7 linked regions of the Homo sapiens genome follow. The protein of the gene in region 4 purifies or fractionates together with the protein of the main gene of each other region. This does not show direct contact. Each region holds a gene or a part of one and is shown on either strand. Other genes may lie near its edges.

The links.
Region 1: the proteins of NIPSNAP1 (region 4) and POP1 purify together in Homo sapiens (affinity purification with mass spectrometry; one large-scale study listed by BioGRID and IntAct). This does not show direct contact.
Region 2: the proteins of NIPSNAP1 (region 4) and HP1BP3 purify together in Homo sapiens (affinity purification with mass spectrometry; one large-scale study listed by BioGRID and IntAct). This does not show direct contact.
Region 3: the proteins of NIPSNAP1 (region 4) and IFT140 purify together in Homo sapiens (affinity purification with mass spectrometry; one large-scale study listed by BioGRID and IntAct). This does not show direct contact.
Region 5: the proteins of NIPSNAP1 (region 4) and IVNS1ABP purify together in Homo sapiens (affinity purification with mass spectrometry; one large-scale study listed by BioGRID and IntAct). This does not show direct contact.
Region 6: the proteins of NIPSNAP1 (region 4) and WDR19 purify together in Homo sapiens (affinity purification with mass spectrometry; one large-scale study listed by BioGRID and IntAct). This does not show direct contact.
Region 7: the proteins of NIPSNAP1 (region 4) and FAT1 purify together in Homo sapiens (affinity purification with mass spectrometry; one large-scale study listed by BioGRID and IntAct). This does not show direct contact.

Annotation. Positions count from the first base shown.
Region 1 is NC_000008.11:98,127,293-98,130,792, reverse strand, and holds part of POP1 (ribonucleases P/MRP protein subunit POP1), read right to left. Parts: intron 3,199-3,500; coding exon 3,031-3,198; intron 2,429-3,030; coding exon 2,253-2,428; intron 816-2,252; coding exon 567-815; intron 1-566. UniProt on the Homo sapiens protein: Component of ribonuclease P, a ribonucleoprotein complex that generates mature tRNA molecules by cleaving their 5'-ends. Also a component of the MRP ribonuclease complex, which cleaves pre-rRNA sequences.
Region 2 is NC_000001.11:20,784,508-20,788,564, reverse strand, and holds the start of HP1BP3 (heterochromatin protein 1-binding protein 3), read left to right. Parts: upstream 1-1,257; 5' UTR 1,258-1,370; intron 1,371-1,892; exon of another isoform or gene 1,893-2,379; intron 2,380-4,057. UniProt on the Homo sapiens protein: Component of heterochromatin that maintains heterochromatin integrity during G1/S progression and regulates the duration of G1 phase to critically influence cell proliferative capacity.
Region 3 is NC_000016.10:1,521,573-1,525,072, forward strand, and holds part of IFT140 (intraflagellar transport protein 140 homolog), read right to left. Parts: intron 3,345-3,500; coding exon 3,212-3,344; intron 3,124-3,211; coding exon 2,980-3,123; intron 2,385-2,979; coding exon 2,256-2,384; intron 2,129-2,255; coding exon 1,946-2,128; intron 1-1,945. UniProt on the Homo sapiens protein: Component of the IFT complex A (IFT-A), a complex required for retrograde ciliary transport and entry into cilia of G protein-coupled receptors (GPCRs).
Region 4 is NC_000022.11:29,564,114-29,567,613, reverse strand, and holds part of NIPSNAP1 (protein NipSnap homolog 1), read left to right. Parts: intron 1-3,500.
Region 5 is NC_000001.11:185,303,744-185,307,243, forward strand, and holds part of IVNS1ABP (influenza virus NS1A-binding protein), read right to left. Parts: intron 3,397-3,500; coding exon 3,271-3,396; intron 2,885-3,270; exon of another isoform or gene 2,745-2,884; coding exon of another isoform or gene 2,742-2,744; intron 1,901-2,741; coding exon 1,793-1,900; intron 1-1,792. UniProt on the Homo sapiens protein: Involved in many cell functions, including pre-mRNA splicing, the aryl hydrocarbon receptor (AHR) pathway, F-actin organization and protein ubiquitination.
Region 6 is NC_000004.12:39,213,529-39,217,028, forward strand, and holds part of WDR19 (WD repeat-containing protein 19), read left to right. Parts: intron 1-1,072; coding exon 1,073-1,143; intron 1,144-2,312; coding exon 2,313-2,485; intron 2,486-2,567; coding exon 2,568-2,682; intron 2,683-3,500. UniProt on the Homo sapiens protein: As component of the IFT complex A (IFT-A), a complex required for retrograde ciliary transport and entry into cilia of G protein-coupled receptors (GPCRs), it is involved in cilia function and/or assembly.
Region 7 is NC_000004.12:186,591,357-186,594,856, reverse strand, and holds part of FAT1 (protocadherin Fat 1 isoform 1 precursor), read left to right. Parts: intron 1-3,500.

The sequences.
Region 1 (3,500 bases), on a different chromosome or scaffold from region 4:
TGAACCCTGTTCAGGGTACACAGTTGATTCTCAAATATCTGTTATTGATGAACGACTGTTAGATTAATCTATAGTGAATAAAACTTGACATGATCAACAAGACCTGCACGACCTGGTTCCTACTCTTTTCTCTAGGCTAACCTTGCCCTGATGTTGCCTTGTTCTCCTTCTCTTCTTCTCTGTCACACAGAATTGATTCCAGTTCTTCACTCTCACCTGGCTTCCTTCTGCCTTCCCCCTCTCCTCCCATCTTATCCCTTAGAGCTCAGCTCAAACAGCACTTCTGGGGGACGCCTTCCAGTTAGGTTAGAAATGCTCATCATACTGTATGCTTTTCCCTTACAACCACATATCTGGTAAATCGTTTGATTAATGTCAGTCACCCCCCTAACTTTAGGCTGCCTGATCTCCAGCATCTGGCAAAGGACCCGGGCTTCATGCTCAGGAATTATTTTTAAAATGAATAATCACATAAACGGGGCTTGGCACATCATAAACTATTCTAAAGGCCTCTATGGAAAAGGATCAAACAAAAATAACAAAAAAAGCCCACTGGAAAAGCTCACCTGCAGGAGGCACCGGTTCGTCATGGCTCGATAGCAGGCTCTGTGGCTCTTGACTGTTGGCCTCTCCCCAAGGCAGTAGCCCCACTTCTTGACCATATGAAACCGCTTGGCGTGCCAGATGTGAGTTTCTAACCAAATGTTCTTCTTTTGTCTACGGTTAAATTCTAGCGTCCGGTTCATGTGACATCTTCGAGCTTTATGGCATTTATTTTTTGAATGTTCTTTTTTCTGATGTACGGCTTTCTCCGCCTATAGTTTCAAGTAGAGGGACATATCCCAGTTTGTAAGAATCTCAAAACAGAGTTAACGGTCAGGAATGCAAACAAATAACTTTAGATTAAGTGGAATATTTTATAGATCCCATTAGTTTGCTTAAATTGTTAACTTAGTTTCTTCAATGTAAGTAGAGAAGGAAGACAATGGAAAGAGTGAATGTTTTAGAGCTAGGAGACCTAGGAAGGAGGCACAGTTCCATCACTCACTAACTAGGCAAGTTTCATGGAATATGAAGATCAGAATACTTATAAAATGTTCAACACAGTAACACAAGCTTAATATGGCTATTAGTATTAGAGGGCAAGAAAGAAGAAATCAAATGCTAGCTTCTTGTTGTCATTTTAACCTGTAGAATTGTAACTAAAACCAAAAACTTAAGACCAAAAATAATACAAGTGAGGAAAACCCATACATTTCATCTCAGTTAAGCTACAGACATACACATGCTGAATGCTATCACTGGGAAACAGATTTTATATTAAATCTAGAAAGTATAAAATTCCTTGTTAGTTTTCCCTCTTGAACTCAAACCCCACCACCAGCATAGCAATGGTACATAGAAGGCTGCTCAATAAATAGGTTTTAAACCAATTAGTAAAGACATGGGCTTAATCTTAGAATGTTCAAGTCTAGAATTCTGGTGAAGCCAAAACACAATTAGACTTGTACAAAAATTAAAACCCAGTTCAAGTTTTCAACTTCGAAAAAGTCAGAAAGCAAATGCTAAGCATTGACATTGCTTTTTTTTAACCTTCCTACCCCAAGCTGGGCACACCCTAGAAACACAGATCCAAAACCACTCGGTAAGAGGGTCAGAGTTTTTTTTTAACATCTGGGAAGGGAACATCAACTATTCAACACCCTTACAAGAGAGGAGTATCAAATCCTATATTTCAAAGCACCCATAATAGCCAATTGCCTGTGAATTTCGTTTGAAGGGAAGAAGTTTGGATAATGATTAAATCAAATATATGCAAAACAAAAACAAAAACCATAAGGGTGATGTTTTCTGAGTTTTTTTTTTCTTTTTAGACAAGGTCTCACTGTCACCCAGGCTGGAGTACAGTAGCATGATCACAGCTCATTGCAGCCTCAACCTCCCCTGGCTCAGGGTACCCTCCCATCTCAGTTTCCAAGTAGCTGGGACTACAGGCACACATGTACCATCACGCCCAGCTAATTTGCGGATTTTTTTGTAGAGACAAGGTTAGGCCATATTGCCCAGGCTGGTCTTGAACTCCTGGGCTCAAGCAATCTGACCACCTCAGCCTCTCAAAGTGCTGAGATTACAGGCGTGAGCCACCATGCCCAGCCTTGGTTTTCATTTTTAATAAATTCTATTAGGTCAATACTTCTCAATTTCTTCTAGGAGCTACTAATCTAAACATTTACACTAAGTGGAACTCCTACCTCTTTCTGGGCAATCTCCTGTAACCGTCTGGGAAGGCGTTTGACGTTGTGGCTCATGGCTCTTCGTCGCATGTGCCGTGGCAGAGTCTGAAAAACCAGTGAATTCGAAGACTTCTGGGTCACAGCTTTTAACATAGCACTGATTTCAGCAGCTCGTGCTTGAGCAAAAGTAGAAGCTGTTGAAGGAGATGACAAAGTCATTAAACACCAATCTTGAATTAACATTGGAGAATAAACAGGCTGCTGGGGAAACTTAACTGAATTCCTCCACCAAGAAGGCGTAAAGAGAGACCAGAAAGCATATCTAAGGTATAGGTACAAGGTACAAGGAATATAGGGTTTAATTGTGGTAGTGTGGATGGGGATCATAGGGTGAAGAACAGAAGAGGATGGAAAGGGCCTGGAGACAGGCCCTTTAAATAAAGGTTTGGTTGCCATTTGTGTGTACTCAATTTTCCATCCTTGGAGAATGCTGTGCTGAGTGTGGATGGCATATTTAAAACAAGAGGGGCACGGGGGCTAAGACAAAGAGGAACAGTTCACAAAGACTTGTAAGAAGAAGAGTAAGAGACAGGGAGAGAAACTGAAGAAGGGAGAGCCATCAAGCCCAAGGAAGCTCTGGCCAAAGTCCAGGCTAGAGGCGAGAAGGGTCTAAAGTAGGAGGAGGAGAGGAGAGGTAGGGGAGGCAGAGCCAGGACCACAAGGAGGGCAGTTTGTTGCTGCACTAGACACGAGAGTTCAAAATACAAGCAAACTGCACCTCTTTATGAGTACCCACCAGTTATATACTTGGGGATCTCCTGAGACGTGCCCTCGGGACCTGCTTTCCATCCTCCCTTTTTTCTAAACATCCCTTTGGAGGAAGACTGCTCATTCACTTCAGGGTCAGGCAGAGAATGGGGGTTGACTCTGGTTTGCCGCTGTCGTGAAGTTCCAGGATGAGGCTCTAGTATATTTTCAAAAAGAAACATGTCACCTTTATCAGAGATAAACATTATAGTGGAGAACTAATATTTGTTGGGTGGCAACATTGACCATGTTTTTAATCCTATAGTCACCCTGTAAGGTGGCTATTACTACTTATTTTTAAAGAGGAATCTTACGTAGGAAGGTGAATTAACTTGCTCGAGGTCACAAAGCTAGTAGGTAGCACACAAGGTAATCATGTCAGGATGACATATAAAGGACCTTGGATATAACAGATACAGGTGAAATTTTCTCCTATAAACGGTGCAACATGAATTTCAA
Region 2 (4,057 bases), on a different chromosome or scaffold from region 4:
CTACAGGCGTAAACCACCATGCTCGGCCTAAGTTTTGTTGTTGTTGTTTTAAGCAAAAATCTGTGGAGGAGGAAACATCTCCCAGTTTGCTCTCATCTGAGTCTGCTTCTTACATGAGATGGGTCTAAAGACATTTTAGGGTAAAAGAAGAACGGTAGGATGTTTTAAATGTACGAATACATAAAAATGGAAGTCTTTGAAAAGGAAGACAACAGAAACGTTAACAACGAAGGGAGTGAGCAGAATGAAGAATGGCATAAAAGAGCAAAACCCCTTCTGAACAGCTGGAATATGACACCAGAGTACTAAAGACTGGTAATGCCATCAGGATATGAATGATAACGCACACCTCGTAAAGAATTTTTTATGCTGGCTGTGAAATTTGAACTGATAGAGTGGGGTGGCTGTGGCAGGGAAAGCTGGTGAGACAATTATGCTAATGGCAGGGCCAGACGACTGGGTGAGTGCTTAAATGGTGTCGTAAGTCTTTATAAACCTTGGCACATACGTTTGAGTACTGGTCATCTACTGTAAGCTTGGGACAATTCTACTGGTATTTCCTTACATTTATTACCCAGTCCCTCCCCTGTCCCCCAACACCTGAAACTTTAAAAACAATCTTTCCAAACTAGCTTTGAAGAGCTGTACTTTTCCTTCGTATGTACGTTGTTTAAGTACGCTGATAGCAACGCAATATGACAATTCAAAGGGAATCCCGTCTTCTAATCTCAGGGTTTTCATTCTGGGGAACTCTCCCTGCATGTGAGGATTAGGGAGCCCGGAAAGCCCGTTTCAACTTTTCAGTTCTGAGTCCCGAGTCACTACTCTGCCCTGTACCGTCTGGAGACTTAATGGGAGCGAGTGCGAGGCAGTGAATTCTCCGCTCTCTAGTTTTCCAATTCTACGGTCTTCAAAAAAAGGTTTGCTCTTGAGCTGCGCCTAAACTGAGAAGCGGGAAAGGCTAGCCCCGCTAAAGGCGGACGAGTGGCAGAAGCGGAAACCCAGTTAAGAGAAGGGACTGCCCTGGAGAGCACAGAAAGCGAAGGTTAGCGGGGGAAAGCGGCGCCCCTCCGAGGAAACCGACACCGCCCCGCCACGCCAAGGCAATGGGCGCCACCACGCAGCGCCGGGAACGCGCGCCGACGCCCCGCGCTCCGCCGGCGTCCGCCCGTCCCCGCGCGCCCCCTCGCACCCCACGCGCGGGAGGCGGGGCCGGCGGGGGCGCGCGCGGGGCCGCGGGTAGGGGGGCGGGGCGGCAGAGCTCGGCGGCTGGGACTGGAGGACAGCGGTGGCGGAGGCGACTAGCGGCGGCGGGAGCGGCGCCGAGAGGCCGTGCGGGACGCGGGCGCCAGGACCGGCCGAACGCAGAGGTAACGCAGGACCGAACAGGCGGCCGGGGAGTGGGCGCGGGCTCGCTGGGCCCCGAAGGCGAGTGGCGGAGGCCGCTCGCCCGGGGCGCCGACGCCGCTCCCAGAGAGGAGGGGGCGGGGCGCCCGGGTCCCCGGAGGTGGCGCCTTTTGTCTGCCTTACCCGGCCGCTCCGCCCCGCTCCCTTCCTCTCTCCTGCGACCTAGCCCCCTGCCCTTTTGGTGGACTCCTCCTCAGGGGCCCTCCGGCGCGCGCGCTCCCGCCCTTGTTTTGTTTGGATTTGGGGGAGGAGGGGGAGCTCTTCTCTGGCCGTGCGACCCTGCGTCCCAGCGCGCCTGCGTCGGCGTCCTCTGCCCGCCCCGATTGGCTGAGGGCTGCGCATGCTCCGAGGCCCGCCGCGGTCCGGCGTCCGCCCGCGCCCTCCCCTCACCCCACTCCCTCAGCGGTTTTCGGAGCCGGTTCGAAAGATGCCGGCGGCGGTGACTGGCTGCGGCGGGCCCGCCCCCCGGGTTCTCCGCCCCCGCCGCCGCCATTACGGAGCTCCCAGTGGTGAGTGTGCGGAGCGCCGAGGCTCGCGTTCCGCCGCTGCTTCCGTCGCCGGGGCGGGCGCCGCGGTGTCCCTGCCGAGCGTGAGCCCCGAACTGTCACCGCGCCGAGCCCCAGCCTCATCCGTCGGTGTCCGCGGTCCGAGCTTTCCCCGCCTCGCTGGCGGCCCGCGCTCTCCCCCGCCGTGCGCGTTCGCCGCTGTGGCCTGTAGCTACCTCGCCTCGCTGCTTTGTCTCCGCTGCTCTTGCCGTCCTTCCCGCGGCCTTCTGCGGGCGGGGCTGTCGGCTGTCGCTTTGCTGCTCCGCGACGGCGGCCTTGAGTCTCGCTCCCCCGGTGGGAAACGTAGAACTGGTTACTCGCCACCTTAGGCGGTGGGGTTTGAATGAGAGCGGTGCCTCGGTAGGTCGTCAGAAAGTTACAGTCGCCCATCTGAGCGTTTGTAAGAGATGGAGGCAGGAGTGGTGAGGTGAGAGCCCCAGATCTGAGGGTTGGTACTGCATTAACAGCTGTGACCGGGGACAGCCACTTAACCTTTTTGAGAAAGAGTTGTCTCCCGTACGGAGACCGGACCGGGTGAACTGTGCTGCCGCATCCGCGTGCACGTTCTCTCTGTTGTTTATTGTGCTTCCTGACTTTGCATTGCATTAAAAAGTGAGAATCCAATTCGAAATAACGTCTAAAAATCGCCTGGGGCTTTTTGAGCACGCTGTCTTGTCTTAGAGTGAAATTAGAGGTGACTAGTGTCATTTTTGAAAGGTGCTCTAATTTTGTTTAACCTGACATAGGCAAAAAACTTGTTAGCTTTTTGATTTTTCATTGCTCTTCTCAAAAGTTTAGTGTAATTTGTTTCAAAATAGAAGTAACATTTTAAAGTTTGCTGGGTTGGTTGGTTTTGGCTTTGTTTTTAAGCTTGCTTGGAAGATTGTAGGGCTGGAAGTTAGTGGAGAACGTATACTGAACTCTTCATTTCCGGATGAAAGTTTTAACTCCTTACCCAGTTAGATTGTGATTTTATTGAGATGAGACACTGTAGTGTCCTTAGTATCTATGCCCAAAACAGACACTGAGTATATGTTTGCTTATATAACTTACATTTGAAAATGAAAAACAAGTGGTGTCAGCAGTCAAATTACAGGCATGCTTTTTGTGACATGACTCGTTAAATCTGAGTGTAGTGAATGACTTAAGATTGGGAACAATGTGAGGTGTTCAGCGCATCACTAATGACATGTATTACATATATTTTATGGTAAAATGTGAAATTATAGTGCTTTCCCTAAAATGCATATTATCAAGGATATCAGTAAACTGAAATACGTTGTTAAACTCCTCACTTTTCTACAGCCTTCTCTTAATGTAGAGGAAATAAATTAAAACTGAAATTTGGGGCTTTTTATTTCTACAATACTTTTTTTTATTGCTTGCATTCAAATAATTTAAAGCCGTGCATGGTGGCTCACACCTGTAATCCTAACACTTTGGGAGGCCAAAGAGGAGGATCGCTTGAATCCAGGAGTTAGAGACCAGCTTGGGCAACCCTGTCTCTACAGAAAATACAAAAACTATCCGGCTGTGGTGGCGCATACCTGAAGTCCCAGCTACTCAGGTGGCTGAGGTGGGAGGAGATCGCTTGAGCCCAGGAGGTCGAGGCTACAGTGATCCCTGGTCATGCCACTGTACTCCAGACTGAGACTCTGTCTCAAAATAAACAACCGATTTAATTTAAGCATTTCCCTTGACAAAAAGCAAATATTTGTTATTGTTGTAACATTAAGTTTAAGCAAGCTGATGTTCATAAGAGGACCATGTAAACCACAAGTAAACTCAGACTGTTTATTTTTGGCACATATAAAAACCAAGATGAAAAACATGAATAGGCCGGGCACGGTGGCTCACGCCTGTAATCCCAGCCCTTTGGGAGGCTGAGGTGGGCGGATCACGAGGTCAGGAGATCGAGACCATCCTGGCTAACACGGTGAAACCCCGTCTCTACTGAAAATACAAAAAATTAGCTGGGTGTCGTGGCGGACGCCTGTAGTCCCAGCTACTCAGGAGGCTGAGGCAGGAGAATGGCGTGAACCGGGAGGGGAGGTTGCAGTGAGCCGAGATCGCGCCACCGCACTCCAGCCTGGGCGACAGAGCAA
Region 3 (3,500 bases), on a different chromosome or scaffold from region 4:
GTAGAGACAGGGTTTCTCCCTGTTGGTCAGGCTGGGCTCAAACTCCTGACCTCAGGTGATCCACCCACCTCGGCCTCCCAAAGTGCTGGGATTACAGGCGTGAGCCACCACACCCAGCCCTCATTTTAAGAAAAATTTTACATTCTTCACTTGAGAATATGTCTTAGGCCGGGCATGTTGGCTCATGCCTGTAATTCCAGCACTTTGGGAGGCCAAGGTGAGAGGATCACTTGGGCCTAGGAGTTTGAGACCAGCCTGGGCAACACAGTCAGACCCCCATCTCCACAAGAAAAAAAAACAGTAATAACCCACAAATATATATGAAGTAATAACACATTTATATTTAAAAAAAAAAAAAAAAAGAATATGGCTGAGCATGGTGGCTCACACCTGTAATCCCAGCACTTTGGGAGGCCGAGGTAGGTAAATCACCTGAGGTCAGGAGTTCGAGACCAGCCTGACCAACATGGAGAAACCCCGTCTCTACTAAAAATACAAAATTAGGCTGGATGCCATGGCTCATGCCTGTAATCTCAAGCACTTTGGGAGGCTGAGGAGGGTGGATCATGAGATCAGGAGATCGAGACCATCCTGGCCAACATGGTGAAACCTCGTCTCTACTAAACACAGAAAATTAACACAGGTGTGGTGGTGGGCGCCTGTAGTCCCAGCTACTCGGGAGGCTGAGGCAGGGGAATTGCTTGAACCCGGGAGGCTGAGGTTGCAGTAAGCCAAGATTGTGCCACTGGACTGCAGTCTGGGTGACAGAGAGAGACTCTGTCTCAAAATAAAAATAAAAATAAAAATACAAAATTAGCCGGGCGTGGTGGTGCATGCCTGTAATCCCAGCTACTGGGGAATCTGAGGCAGGAGAATCACTTGAACCCGGGAGGTGGAGGTTGCGGTGAGCTGAGATCGCCCCATTGCACTATAGCCTGGGCAACAAGAGTGAAACTCCATTTCAAAAAACAAAAAGAGAATATGTCGGCCAAGCATGGTGGCTCACGCCTGTAATCCCAGCAATTTGGGGGGCCGAGGCAGGCAGATCACGAGGTCAAGAGATCGAGACCATCCTGGCCAACGTGGTGGAACCCCATCTCTACTAAAATACAAAAATTAGCTGGGTGTGGTGGCAGGCACCTGTAGTCCCTGCTACTTGGGAGGCTGAAGCAGGAGAATCGCCTGAACCCAGGAAGTGGAGCTTGCAGTGAGCCGAGATTGCGCCACTGCACTCCAGCCTTTCCACCCTTAGTAGCCCAGTAAAAAATGGCATCTCCGTGAATTTTGATATGTATTTCTATCATGAATAAAGCTAAGCATTTTATATTTGGGAACCACCCATATTTCCATTTGAATAAACTGTTCCTGGCCAGTCACAGGGCTCACATCTACAGTCCCAGTGCTTTGGGAGGCTGAGGCAGGAGGATTGCTTGAGCCCAGGAGTTCAAGACCAGCCTGGGCAACACAGCAAGACCCTGAGTCTATGAAAAAAAATTTAAAAAATTAGCTGGGGATGGTGGCACACTCCTGTATTCCCGGCTACTCAGGAGGAAGGAGGATTGCTTGAGCCTGGGAAGTTGAGGCTGCAGTGAACCAAGATGGCACCACCACAGTCCAGCCTGGGCAACAGAGCGAGACCCTGTCTCAAAAAAAAAAAAAAAAAGGCTAAGATGGTAAATTTTGTGTTCTGTGTGTTTTTACCCCCCACCATAGGTGAGTGCACCATTCCCTGTGTATGATCAGATGCCAGCGTGAAGGATGGCGAGTCTACACTTGCGGACCTCCTGGGTGTGCCGTATGTGAAACCTAGGGCAGGGGGCACCCACCGCAGCCTTCCTGGAGAACTCATAACCAAGCAAGCAGCCATTCCCACAGCCTCTGGGGACAGGAGACCTGAGCCGTGGTGCCTGCGTGGAGCCGAGCCCAGGCCCCGCTGGCCCCGTACCTTCCTGGCAGCCAGCAGCAGCTCTACCGCCCTCTCGTACTGACTGTGCTCGATGAAGAAGTCGGAGCAGCGGGCCAGGAGCGCAGGGTCTGACGTCTCATCCAGGTCCTCTGCTATGAGCTGTAGGGCCACAAACTGCTGGGTGGCAAAGGCCAGCTCCAGGGCCTTGGAGAAGTGGCCAGCCTGCGGATACGGTGGGCTCTGAGCAGCTGCCCGAGGCCTGGGGGCCCGAGCACGGAGGCCTCGCACAGGCAAGGGCCCCCTGGCTTGCTGCCCCTCCCCCAGGTCCCCACCGGTGGCCAGCCCTCACCTTGTGGTACAGCATGACCGCCCTGTCCATCTGCACGCCCTTCTCCTCGTAGTATCGGGCCGCCTCGATCATGTCCTCGGGGGAGCTCAGCAGGGCCAAGTTCATGAGCTGGTCGTCCAGGCCGTTCTCCTGCAGGGAGGGAGGCAGGGCCCTGAAGCGGCTCCCACTGGCTTCCCCAGGTCCGCTGAGATTCTGGAATGTGGCCGGGTGCGAACCCGCCCCTTCACTTTGACACACTGCTCAGCGATCTCTGCGGTGATGGGTTTTAAGGAGCTGATGACTTACTGGGTTTGTCTACAAGGATTTTCCGATGCTCTGGGTTCTATTTCACAGAGCACTGCAAGAAATACCTGACACGGGAGATGCTTCTGGAAGCGAGAGCCCAGGTTGGGACATTTGTGTGGTGCAGAACGCCCAACAGCTATCTAGGAAGGGTCTGCCGTCTGCAAGGCCATAGGCCGTGAGCAGCCTCACCACCCACTCAGGAGCCCTGGAGCCTGGGAAACATCTGGGGACAATTCAGTGCTTTGCAAACAATGTCAGATGGAAGCGGCCAGGGGTGGGCAGAGGGGTGGGCGGGTGAGGCAGACGGGGTGAGCAGTGAGTGGCAGACACTGGCCGGACCACGTGTCACTGACACGATTCTCTCTGTCCACTTTTCCACTTGAAGCTCTCCTCAGGGGACCTCGAGAAGCGCCGGCTCCCCACCCCGGGCCCGTGGTACCTTGCACAGGCGGATGGCATTCTTGAAGGCCTGTGCCCGGGTGTAGAAGTGCACCGCCTGCCCGACCTCCTCCTGGCTCTCGTACTGGCGGGCGAGGTGGTAGGAGGCCGCCAGGTTTCCTGTCTCGTTGGCTATTTGCGCAGCCTAGAAAGACAAAGAACCCAAAGACGAGACACGGTGGCCTTGTGTCTGCCTCGTGTCCGCCTGGCCGGCTCCCCTGCGGGGACCTTACCTTCTGGACATTGCCCTGGAAGCAGTGGATGCGGACCAGGGAGAAGTGGTCCCGGGCCAGCTCGTAGTAGTGCAGCGCGGCGTCCATCTCGCCCTGGCTCTCCAGGTACTGCGCCCACCACCGCCACAGGGTCCTGCGGGCAGCCCAAGACCATGGATTCTCCACCCGAGCCCCGCTCCAACCCGGGACGGCCCCCACCCCGCCCCTGTGCCACCCTTAGAGTGCATGTCACCTGACCTGCAAACAGGCTGGGCCAAGAGTGAGGACCCCTGGCTTTGTCCAAAGGGAG
Region 4 (3,500 bases):
CCCAAAGTGCTGGGAGTACAGGCATGAGCCACAGTGCCTGGACTATTCACTTTTCTATTTTGGCATAGATGTCACCTCCTCCTGGAAGGCTGCCGAGATTTCCTCCACGCGGGCTGGGTCAGGCACCTTCCTTAGCTCTCCAGGCCTCAGTAATTACCTCCTCACGCCCTGATCATGTACCCCTATAGCTGCCTGTTTAGTTGTCTGTCTCCATATATGGGTGAATCCCCAATATGCAGCACATATTTGTGGAATAAATAGGAGTTCTTCTTGTCTGAGCTGGTGTCTTACAGTCCCAGGGGCACCCCTAGCATGCCCCATCCCAGCCTAATAGACACATCAAAGTTGGCACCAGCTATAAGAACCCACACATGAATTTGGCTGACTCACAGCATCTCAGCCACTCAAAGGGACCTCAAATTCAGACCCACACTGTCCAAAATGATAGCCACTAACCACATGTAGTTATTTATTTATTTATTTTTTTGAGATGGAGCCTCGCTCTGTACTGTCACCCAGGCTGGGGTACAGTGGTGCAATCTTGGCTCACTGCAACCTCTGCCTCCTGGGTTCAAGTGATTCTCCTGCCTCAGCCTCCTGAGTAGCTGAGGTTACAGGCGTGTGCCACCACACTTGGCTAATTTTTGTATTTTTAGTAGAAACAGGGTTTCACCATGTTGGTCAGGCTGGTCTTGAACTCCTGACCTCATGATCCTCCCGCCTGAGCCTCCCAAAGTGTTGGGATTACAGGCATCAGCCACTGCGCCTGGCCTATTTATTTATTTTTTTGAGACAGCGTCTCACTCTGGTTTCCCAGGCTGGACTGCAGTGGTGCAATCACAGCTCACTGCACCCTTGACCTCCCGGGCTCAGATGATTCTCTCACCTCAGCCTCCCAAGTAGCTGGAACTACAGGTGTGCACCACCACAGCCAGCTAATTTTTTATATTTTTAGTAGAGACAGGGTTTCGCTATGTTGCCCAGGCTGGTCTTGAACTCCTGGACTCAAGCAATCCGTCAGCCTTGGCCTCCTGGACTACTGAGATTACAGGTGTGAGCCACTGCGCCCTGGCCTCACATGTAGCTATTGAAATTTATATTAGTTAAAATTACATAAAATTTAAAGTTCAAGCTGTGTGCCAAGGTGCTCACCTGTAGTCCTAGCTACTTGGGAGGCTGAGTTGGGAGGACTGCTTGAGCCCAGGAGTTCGAGGCCGTGATTGAATACCATCACACCTATGAATAGCCACTGCACTCCAGCCTGGGCAACACAGTGAGGACCCTGTCTCTAAAAAAGAAAAAATTCAGGACTGAATATGGTGGCTTATGCTTATAATCCCAGCAGATTAGGAGGCTGAGGTGGGAGGAACACTTGAGGCCAGGAGTTTGAAACCAGCCTGGGCAACATAGTGAGACTTTGCTTCTATAAAGAAAATACATATTAAAAAAAAAAGAAGAAAAGATTTTAAAAAGAAAAAATTCAGTTTCTTAGTCATACTAGCTACATTTCAAATGCTCACTCATATACACACAGGCTCATGCAGAAAGTACTTTTGGACAGTACTGGTTTAGAGTGTCTGCATAGCACAGCCATAACAGATGGTCCTCTAAACTTCCCTTGAACACTCCTAGCCATGAAGAGTTCACTTGTAAGCCAATCTATTTCATCCTTTGACAGCCCTGATAATCGTGTCTTTGAAAATAATCTGTGACCTGCAGATAGATAGGTGTATCTCCTTAATCAATTATTTGGTTTCCGTAACAGACATTAACATATTATTTATGTTTTATTTTTATTATTTCCATTTAGAAACAGGGTCTCACTATATTGCCCAGGCTGGAGTTGAATTTCTGGGCTCGGGCAATCCTCCTGAGTAGCTGGGACTACAGGCGTGTGCCATCATACCTGGCTAGACACTGATATGTGGCTAAGGGAATAAGAGAAAAGCAAATTGCCTTCAGTTTCAGCCACTACAGCTTTCCCATTTTAAGCTTGACTTGATCAGCTCCAGCAGTATTCCTTGAATTCTCTTAAGCATTTGCTAGTTGTGAAATGAACTCTGAGGGATGGGATCCTGACTTTTTCTTTTTTTTCTTTTTCGAGACCGAGTCTCACTCTGTTGCCCAGGCTGGAGTGCAGTGGCGTGATCTCAGCTCACTGCAACCTCTGCCTCCCGGATTCAAGCAAGTTCTCTTGCCTCAGGCTCCCGAGTAGCTGGGACTACAAGTATGAACCACCATGCCTGGCTAATTTTTGTATTTTTAGTAGAGATGGAGTTTCACCATCTTGGCCAGGCTGGTCTCGAACTCCTGACCACAGTTGATCCACCTGCCTCGGCCTCCCAAAGTGCTGGGATTAAAGGCGTGAGCCACTGCCCCTGGCCTTTTTCTTCTTTTTATTTTTCTGTTTGGGACAGGGTCTCGCTCTGTCACCCAGTTTGGAGTGCAGTGGCATGATCATAGTTCACTGTAACCTTGAACTCCTAGGCTCAGGCGATCCTCTCACCTCAACTTCTCGAGTAGCTGGGACCACAGACATGCACCACCATGCCTGGGCTAGTTGTTTTGTTTTGTTTGTTTGTTTGTTTTGTAGAGATGAGGTCTTGCTATGTTGCCCAGGCTGATCTCAGACTCCTGAGCTCAAGTGCTCCTCTCCTGCCTCAGCCTCCCAGAGTGTTGGGATTACAGGCCTGAGCCACTGCGCCTGGCTGATCCTGACTTTTTAAAGCATACCCTACATTTTTTGTACCTTGAAGTTCAGTCCCTCACATAGTCAGCTGAATCATGTTGAGCTGTACGCTGGGAGTAGGGTTCAAGAATCTACATTTTAATAAACTTGTAAGAACCATTGATCCATCTCCTATGGAGAGCACCACAGTTGTTAGACAATTCCTTCTTCTTGGCTGGGCGCGGTGGCTCATGCCTGTATCCCAGCACTTTGGGAGGCTGAGGCAGGTGCATCACCTGAGGTCAGGAGTTCAAGACCAGCCTGGCTAACAAGGTGAAACCCTGTCTCTACTAAAAATACAAAAATTAGCTGGGCGTGGTGGCATGCGCCTGTAATCCCAGCTACTTGGGAGGCATAGGCAGGACAGTCTCTTAAATCCAGGAGGTGGATGTTGCAGTGAGCTGAGATCACGCCACCGCACTCCAGCCTGGGTGACAGAAAAATAAAGAAAATTCCTTCCTCTTGCCAATGATGCTGTCCTTGTAACTTTTCTCCGTTAATCCGTTTTCCACAGGTCATTCCTGGTTTTGGTAGATTTCTATCCATACAGTACTTTTGCCATTTCCTTTGGGAAAAAGACCTTTAAACCATAGGGTCAGGCCATTTTGCAGATGGGAAAATCAAGGCACAGATGGAGTCAAAAAACAGGTGAAGGTCAGGCTGGGGATGGGGATGGGAAGTTACAGAGTCTGAGTTTCTAGACTGCTGGCAGCCAGCTGCCCTTAGCTCTAGCTTGCCTGTGTGATCCCCTGGGGACCTTCCTCCGCTGATG
Region 5 (3,500 bases), on a different chromosome or scaffold from region 4:
TCAAACTTTTATTGATTTTCTGTGTCTGGTTATAAAAATAGGAAGGGTCCAAGGCAACAATTTTAGAAAATAAAACCAGAAATCAGTTGGGATATTCCAGCCCAAAGACTGCCACCTAATAGACTGTTCCCCAGTTTTTCACCATTACTAAAGTGAATGCAAAACTTTCGTATCACTGTATTCTTACCTAAGGCTTCCCACTGCCTATAGGATAAAGTATAAGCCCCATTCAGGGAGCATTTACCTACTTTCCCAGTCTTATGACCTGCAATTCCAAGAGTATCATCCTCACAGATACTCTTTGCTAACACCTCTCCCTTTATCTGCTATGCAGACTCCTCTAAATCCTAACACTGCTCAAAAGTTACCTCTTGTGTGAAATATCCCTGGCTTCTCTCCTGTCTCACTGTGTCCTCTCCTTTAGGCCTTTCGTAGCTACCTCTTATAAGCCTGTATTGTTTTGCCCACTCTTAGAAGGTCCTACAAGCAGAAACTGTCTCTTACACATTTTTGTGTTGCCATACCGAACATTATGGCCTGCCACTTATTGGGCACTCAACCTCTGCATGTTGAAAATGTACTTTTAAAATGTTAACTCAAAATGTTTAGAGTTAAGGGGGAAAATATCCTCAATATATTCAAAATGCACAAACATAGGTTCTCAACTAATTCAAATTCCAAAACTTTTAGAAATATTCACTCACTGTTGCCACAGGACACCTGAGAGAGCTAACACCTGATAATTTGTAACCATATAGGCTACTACTAAGTCTACCACTTACCCTCTGATTTTTAAAGAAAAGCATTCCTTAGTCTGGGCTGAGTCGACTGCTTTATAGCTTGTCCCTCAAAAACATAATTTGAGCTAAAGGCCAAATAAAAATATATACTATATGACCATTTATATAAATTTTTTCAAGCATAGCCAAACTAATTTAATGTGTCAGAAGGTAGGATAATGGTTTCCTTTGGGAGCACTATACGGAAACGGTTGGGAAGAGGCAAGAGAAAGGCTGCCGGGATGCTAGAAACCTCTTCTTGACTTGGGTAGTGTTTACACTGGTAGGTTCACTATGTGGTAATTATGACTTGTGTACTTTTCTGTATTTGTCCATAAACTTAAAAAATTTATACTTGAGAAGTTTGTTCTCTAGTAATTGTTGATAATGTGTCTGAATAATTATGTGTTTACTCATAGGGGAAAAATGAAATTGGATTTTATAAAAGGCAAAGTAACTCAATCAGCACAGTGGAACTCTACTATATTTTAATTCATCTTGGTTAAAGAAACATCTAGATCAGGTTTTAACATATGATCCACCACTTTTAGACTTATTACATTGTATAGTCCATCTTAACTATACCATTTCTAATTTCCAGTAAGACAGCTCAGTAGTTAAGGTAACATCCAAAAATTTCTTTCATAGCCATCAACAATTTAAGTCCCCCTGCCCCTTTTTAAAAAAAACTATCAGTCATGCCTGACACAAACAACTGCTTTTCATAATCTTCCCAAATAATTTCTATATTGTTCCATCTTATTGGCCTTTACTGTTTGTAATTCCTGCTTTATGAGAAAAAAATTTCAATAGGGTTTCCTAATTTGTTAATATCTTTTCATGTGGCAAAAATACTAACTCTAAGATATGCTTGTTTTCTCCCAAAAATGTTTCTGTCCAGTTATACCAATGAAATTGGTCCACTTTCCTTTATTAAAGGAAAATTTAAGTATGCTATCAAATTCTCTAGTCAAATTTTAACCTGAGGTTACCTCAGACTGTGCAATGTGTACCTGCACAAACTGAATGTGGTCATCATCACTGCCAAACACCTCAGCCTGTCCATCTAGTAGGTTCCCATCAAGCAGCTTGTGATCAGCTGAGTAGTACAAGGTTTGAACCTGCAAAACAGCAACAGAACACCCATGTGGCTACGGTCACCATGGCTACTCCACTAGTATGCAGATTACACAAACGCCTCAAGGTAACCTCCAGTGTGCTTCTTGAGCTTCTTGACATATTACTCTGGCAGGATCCGGAGGTAAAGAAAAATACATGTCATGGTGGTAAAAATTAAAAAACAAAAACAAAAAACCAAAATCAAATACAAAATCTTCCAATACTGGCTGAAGAGTCGTTGGCTTGATTGGCTTGAAAGAAATCTTCATTTTTTTCATAGCTTCTATCATATAACAGTAAGAAAAAAAGCACTAGTACAATATATACTCTTAAAGAATATACATATTTACAATAAAATACTGAATATAGTTTACACCTTTGCAGATAAGTGGTCTGGTTTGCATAAACATATTTCCTTCCTGTAAGCAATGTCAAGAAAAACAAAGAAAAAACAAATGCAAAAATTCAAGCAAGCTGTAGAGTCATCTCCATTGAGACAGATGCAAATACATGGCAAATGCATCTGACTTTCAAGTGGGAATCATAGAATTTAAAGATAATCTGTTAGCCCTTTTAGACCATAATGATGACAGTGTTTCTGCAGGCCTAACAGATTTGGTAAGCCCTCATAAAGGAACTCCGAAAGGTTTAAGTGGAGAGAGAAACTCAAGGTTACTCCACTGCTCCACCTGCGTGTTTTCAATTCCCACCATTTCTCCATCAATTTTATCTTGTGTATTTTTTTTAAAAGTAGCCCAAGTTAAGTGAGTGACTATATGTATGAACAACACCATTGAAAAACACACAGCTTTAAAGACAAGAATCCTGTAAAGGAGTAAACACCATTAAATCATCATCGTTCTCTGCCCACAGCGGATTTTTCTTAGGAGAACTGGGGCAGGACTGCTGCTTCTTTACGTGTCAATACACTTGAGGTTTCTTCTTGTTTCTTCAGTCTTGGGTATCCTAGTTTTGTTAATAAACCTATGGGGAGATAAATCAATGGGGAGGAACAACCATTAGAAGCTTTTACCTACTTGTCAAATTTAAAGCAAAAACCTGTGAAGAAAAATTAAGAATCTACAGAAAATTTCAGTACCACTTCCCATTTCTAAAGCAAATTACATGCTACTTTAAAGAAAGTTAACAGCACATAATAAGCAAAGAAATAAAAAAAGAAAAGCAGAAGACCAAACTGAACAGTTCATTCAGCTCACCTGGACACCCCCCCTGTTTCTCAGCTTAGGGGTACCTATAGCAAAATTTAAATTCTTTAGGGTCATGGTTATAAAATAAAAGTGAAAGGGAATCCTTCATGTTATAGCAAAATAATTTTTAAAAATGGTTGAATCCCATTTACTTTAAAACTAACCTCTTCCATCAGCTCTTCCAGACTGTCTCCATTCTCCCAGATGCTACGCTGCACCCAGTTGATTACCTTTGTATATAATTTGCCATTGCTGGGCAAGCAAACATTATCTTCAAGCATTACCTCCAACTAGAATTGGGAAAAACAATGACATGGATCAGTGTTGGGCTCCTAGTTCTCAGCTTAATTCCCAATTTCATAATAAAGTTGTCACAGATGCACAATTCATTCCA
Region 6 (3,500 bases), on a different chromosome or scaffold from region 4:
TAAAAACAAAGAACAGATTAGTGATTCCCAGAGGTTAGAGATGGAGCTGGGGTCAGAAGGAAGGAGGTGAGTGTTTATAAAAAGGCAACATGAGAGATCCTTGTGGTCATGGAACTATCTATATCCTGACTATGGTTGTGAGTCTCATGAATCTCATGTGTGAGAAAGTTACTAAACACACACACTGAGTACAAGTAAACACACACACTAAGTACAAGTAAAACTAGGGACGTCGGAATAAGATTTGTGGTTTCTATCAATGTCAGTATCCTGATTGTGGTATTATACTATAGTGTTTCAAGATGTTACTATTGGGAGAAAAGGGGACATGGAATCTCTCTATCTCTCTATATTGCCTCTTACAACTACCTGTGAATCTGAAATTATCTTAAAAGTTTAATTAAATGAAAATAATGAGGGAAAAAAGGTAAGAGGAAAACACTGGAAGAGAAGAGAAGGAGAAAAGGAGGTTAGGAGGAAAGAAATGTTACAACTATTAGTTCCCAACATTGTACTACACAACTTTCATTTACATCAACTTACTTATTCTTACTACAACCTTATGAAATAATGTTATGCCCGCATTTTTCAGAGCTTTCAACCTGATCCTTCTGATCCAAATTTAATGTTCTTTCTATACTATAATTCACTTCCTTTTGTATGAAAGAACTCTGGGCAGGGGAGAAAGGGAACACATTGTAAAGAGAAACCTGTATCATCTTACAATAATTAATACTACTCAGGAGAATATTTTCGTACCCAAATTTCTTCAGGACAATTTTAACCTCCTTATTCCTGAAGCTATAGATCAGAGATTAAGCCAGGCACAACCCTACCCGCCCCCCATCTCTGCACACAGTAAGCAAACAAACAACAACAACAAACCCAAAAGTTTAAAGATAAAATATAATGAAGTACAGAAATTCTAATATTTTCTTAACCCAGTAGATCATTCTGTACATCACATTTTGGAGACCAGTAACCTATTCCATGGTTTGTAATTTTTTGTGAATTAAAACAGTTTTATATAAAGATCATATATATTTTTTAATAATGCATTTTTGTTTTTCAGCATTAAAATCCAAGACTTGGTTGACTTAAAAGACATGTATGTTATACTCAACCTGGATGAGGAAAATAAAGGTATTGATTTTTCTGAAGCAGATTGACATTTTATCATTCCAGTTACAGAGAGTAAGGTTGTGTTTGTTATCGTGTGATTTGCATTCGTTGTAGGAGGAATAATTTTTTTTTTTTTTTTTGAGATGGATTCTTGTTTTGTAGCCCTGGATGGAATGCAATGGCATGATCTCTGCTCACTGCAACCTCCACCTCCCAGGCTCAAGCTATTCTCCTGCCTCAGCCTCCCAAGTAGCTGGGATTACAGGCACGTGCCACCACGCCCAGCTAATTTTTGTATTTTTAGTAGAGATGGGGTTTCACCATGTTGGCCAGGCTGGTCTCGAACTGCTGACCTCAGGTGATCCGCCTGCCTTGGCCTCCCAAAGTACTGGGATTATAGGCGTGAGCCACTGTGCCTGGCCAGAAATAAATTTTAATACTCTTCACTAGAGTTCCCTAAAATAGTCTCCTTATTTTAGTAATTATGTTGTCATACTGCTTGACTAGAAAGATATGTCTACTTTGATCCAGAGATTTATAGTGAATTTTATCCTAATTCTAATGTAAAGTATAAATTCTTATATACAGTCATGACCCACATAATGACGTTTCAGTCCACATACATGGTCCATATTTACTACCTTTTCTTTGTTTCTTTCTTTCTTTCTTTCTTTCTTTTTTTTTGAGACAGCGTCTTGTTTTGTTGCTCAGGCTTACTGTACATTTTCTATATTTAGATATGATTCAATGTGCAAGTACTTACTGCTGTGTTACATTTGCCTGCAGTGTTCAGTACAGTAACATGCCATACAGGCTTATAGCCTAGGAGCAATAGGCTATACCATATAGCCTAGGTACGTAGTAGGCTATTTGATCTAGGTTTGTGTAAGTACACTCTATGATGTTCACACAACAACAAAGTCACCTAATGACAGATTTCTCAGAACATAGCCCTGTTGTTAAGTGACACATAACTGTACTTTCCCTTTGAGCCACAGGGAATGAGCCAGTGCTCATATTCTTATGCCAATCCATGGCAAATTTCCTAGTCTAAAAAAAAAACTACTTAAACTAGTAAGGAAAATATTTGAAAATTGTTATGTCTCTGGTAGCTTAAATGAAAATATTTGTTTGCTGCCTGCAACTATATATTGTTTTTGAATAATCATTTATTTTGTCGATTATTTCAGGATTGGGTACCTTGTCCTGGACTGATGATGGCCAGTTGCTAGCACTCTCTACCCAAAGGGGCTCACTTCATGTTTTCCTGACCAAGCTTCCCATACTTGGGGATGCCTGCAGCACAAGGATTGCCTATCTCACCTCCCTCCTTGAAGTCACCGTAGCCAACCCTGTTGAAGGAGTATGAAAATGGTGTTATTTTTCTTTTATTTATTAATAAAATAAGTTTAGCCGTTGATTTATTACTATTTTCTTTATTATAGGAGCTACCAATCACAGTTTCTGTTGATGTGGAACCCAACTTTGTGGCAGTAGGTCTTTATCATCTGGCTGTAGGAATGAATAATCGAGCTTGGTTTTATGTCCTTGGAGAAAATGGCAAGTCTAAATCCAGTTGTTTATTCTTATCTAGCACATAATTTCTGTTCTTATTTGGGAAGCACTGCAAGTTTCTTTTAGGACCAAGTCTTTCACTCTTTTTTATTCACATATCTCATTCTTAGCTTAAATGGTTTTGTAAGTCTTCTAAAAATTTGCATAATTTTTAGAAAGCTTTTATTCTTTACCTTTGTAGTGAAGGCAGCATAGCATAGTGGGTAGAATGTGAGCTTCAGAATTAGAGAGGCCCTGGATTTAATTTCCCCTTCTGCCTCTGTTAGCTAAGTGACTATAGACAAATCATTTTACACTTGTGAGCCTTACTCATCTGGAAAATGAGGATACTTCTACTTTTAATGGATCATGAGGAAGATTAAATAAAATGCGTGGTCTCACTTGGCACAGTGACTTTTTTTAAGCACTCTTAAACCTAGTGGGTACTTAATAAATGTTAGTTCTGTCTCCCCTTTTATTCTTTGAATAATAGCTATTAGCATGTGAGGAAAACCTTGTTTTGTTTTTTCTTCCCCTGCCTCCTCCCCATCACCTTTCCCCAATTCTAGGTCAGATAACCCTCAGGAATAGAACAAACCTGAAAATTAACCTGTTAAACAGGAAATACCATTAAGTTTCTTGCAACTTAAGGTTTAATTCTTTAATTGTTTTGCATATAATTTTATTTTCTATTACTTTGTTTCAGGTAAACCATAATGGAATGCCTGAAGGCAAATTTATATGGCAACTAAGATTAAAATGAAATTTAATCTTTAAGATTCAATTTAATTATTTAATCATTTAAGATTAAAATGAAATTTTAA
Region 7 (3,500 bases), on a different chromosome or scaffold from region 4:
GTGGGAAAAGGTAACCCCACTAATAATTATTCAATCCAGAGTAATATAGTCCATAATACATCATATAGTCCATAAATCCATATAGTCATTATCTATTGCAGTCATTTTTCAAACTAAAGATAGCTATAAGTATGTGCTATCATTTCTGATTTCAAGTATATATATATATATATATATATACTTTCAAGTATATATATATATACACACTCTATTCCTAATCAACACAGGTATATTTTGATACCGTATATATGGTATCAAAATATACCTGTGTTGATTAGGAATAGGGTGTATGGACATAGCTTTGCTTGTTAAACCAACAAGATAGAATTATGTCTTTTATCAATTTTAATTCTAAGAAGTTCCTGTTTCCAGTTTATGTAATAATTTATATCTTGGCCCCTAAATGCTCTTTATAAATACATTTCAGAATTTTATCAGCATTTTCTTTCTAGTTCTTGTTGTTGGAACATCAGTCTTCTTAATAATAGTCCCAGGTGGCCGGGCGCAGTGGCTCACGCCTGTAATCCCAGCACTTTGGGAGGTGAAGGCGGGCGGATCACAAGGTTGGGAGATCGAGACCGTCCTGGCAGTGAAACCCCGTCTCTACTAAAAATATAAAAAAAATCAGCCGGGCGTGGTGGTGGGCACCTGTACTCCCAGCTACTGGGGAGGCTGAGGCAGGAGAATGGCCTGAGCCCGGGAGTTGTAGCTTGCAGTGAGCTGAGGTCACGCCACTGCACTCCAGCCTGGGCGACAGAGCGAGACTCTGTCTCAAAAAAAAAAATAGTCCCAAGTGCTTTCAATAAGTTATGGTCAAATTAGTTATGAAAACTAGCTTCCAGATAGTACAATGCAGAGAAAAAACATATATACAGGAGTGTTTTTATTTTACTCATTACCATAATGTAATTATCAGTTGTAAACTGAAAGTCTGCTGAGAGTCTGTTCCTGCGTCGTATTCCCGGTTTTCCAGGGCCATTACAGATTACCACAAACTTTGTGGCCTAAAACAATGTAGACTTGTGTTGCTGTCATTCTGTAGCTTAGAAGCCCAACCCCTGTGTCTCACAGGGCTTAAGTCATGCGATCAGTAGGGCTGCATTGCCTTCTGCAGCTCGAGGGAAGAACCTGTTTTCCTTCCTTTCCTGGTTTTTAGAGGCTGCCCACATTCTTTGGCTCTTGGTTTCTTCCATCTCAGAGACAGCAACACAGTGTTTCATTGACCACCCTTCTGTCAGCAGAGCTCCCCCCAGCCGTAACTGGGAACGCCTCTGTGCAGAAAAGTTACCCTTATGATTACACTGGGCCCACCCAGGTAATCCAGGGAAATCCCTCATCTCAATTTCCTTATCTGAACCGCGTCAACAAAGTCCCTTTTGCCATGTATAGTGACATATTCACAGGCTCCTGGGATTAGGACGTGGACTATTTGAGGGCCAGCCTTCTGCCTACCACATGCGTACATATTTACCTTGGCATAGTTATTTTAAAACAATCTGATACACAAATGAAAAGGGAATTTACACAGGAAACAGACGGACAGAGTCTCCTCCTATACTCGTACATTAGCTCACCAGCGATTAGTCCATCTGCAAACAGACGAGAAATTTGCAGGGAAAGCAATCAGAACAGGGACAAAAACATTCTTGTTTTAGATTGCATATGTTTCTCCTTCAATTTCTTTTTTTTGGGGGACAATGTGTGAGTGATTAAGCAGCCGGAAGAGTGGCGAACCACAGACTGTAGTCTTGGAATGTCGAGTCTTGCCTGTAAGATGTTAAAATAAGAATCGTTTTGGCCTGGCATGATGCATAATTGTAATTGTGAAAAAATTTAAAGCTAAAAGTTTTTTTGTTTAAATTCCAATAAAATATGTTTACGTTATTCCTTTGATTAATAATAACAAATATATAGCTCGATTAAAAAAGTCTCTGAGACACACAGCTAACAGTGAGGAGACCACGCATCATTATGTGGTTGTATTAAAGCACTCATCGGTTGGAATCTGAGGTAGAAATGGTATAATACAAAACTTTATTTCATGCACTGTTTTCTAACTAACTGAAGATGTTCCTAATTGACTGCTTTTGTACCTTTTTGCAAGCTTCCATAGTGACCGTAATGCACCTTGTCAATGCTGTGGTTGACACGGTGAGCACAGAAGGTACAGTTGTAAGTGCTCGTGCTTGTGTCTGTGTCTTGCAGCAGCCGTGTCGTAGAGCTCGGCCGCATTGCTATTGCAATGGTAGGAAAAAACAGTTTGTGGTTTTGAGGGGGTTGAGTCCTTTTATTTTATGCAGGTGTGTATATACGTAATATGAGTGCTTTGCAAAAAATATCTCAATGTATGTTATGTCTTTGTTCCTTTTTACCATTCATAGTGATTTACATGAGATCTGGAGAGCTTATCTGTAGGTGGTGCAATCAAGAAAAAGTTCAGAAGTAATTTTACCTAAAATTTTTTTGAAACAAAAATTCTTCTTCGTATGTACAGGAATAAGACTTGAATAATGTAAAGCTTTCATAATTAACCTGTAACTGACTCTTCACTTTTGGTTTTTCCCTGAGTATGATCAAAGAAAAGGGTGTAGAGCATGGTAAAAGAATATTTTCATATTTGGTTTAGTGAAAATTATTTAATGTGAAGCTTTATCTGCTCAGAGTTGTAAGAAAGGACATTGAGCACCTTCCCCAAATTATTTTAAATTAAAATAGCCCTTTATTAGTGCACTGAAATTCATCACATGGGGAAGACACAGGCTAGTACTTTTCAAACTGTAATGTGAATCAGATCATCTGGAGGGCTGTTAAAAGCCCAATTGCTGGTTCTCAGCACCAGCATTTCTGATCCAACAGGTCTGGGTTGGGACTTTAGAATTTGCATTTTTCACCAGTTCCCAGGTAGCTCTGATGGTGCCGGTCTAGAGATCCCACTCGAGAACTGCTTACAGAGGCCATCGAGTACACAGACGTCATCATAGAGTTCGGGGGATCCTTTATGCTAGGACATGATGCTGTCAAGGTTCAGGAGGAGGGAGGATAGCTCTGGGCCCCATTTGCTATCAGGCAGAAGAGGCTTAGATACTCCAGTGTTCATGGTTATAGTTACTGATGACGCCTACACTTCTTTTCCTAAGAAGTACCATGTTTTCACTGGGCAAATCAGAAACATACCTGTATTTTGTCTAGTGAAGTTTTAGTGTTAAACTGATGACCTTCAGCATTTTAAATATTATTGAAGCTTATAGAAGCAGAATTTCAACAGTTCCTTCATTGCAGTCTCCTTCATTGACAAATATTTTTTGGCATATCCAAGAAGTGCACATGGAATTTAAAGTTGAAAGCTATTACTAGTGCCTACGTAACAAAAGTTGTTGATCTTTTTTTGTTTAAAGGAATTGCTGCTTTTGTTACTAGACTTAAAAATGATTCTGTAGATACATGTTACCTAAATGCCGGCGTATTCATGTTTTAGAGACACCACAGTCTTTTAAAATTAC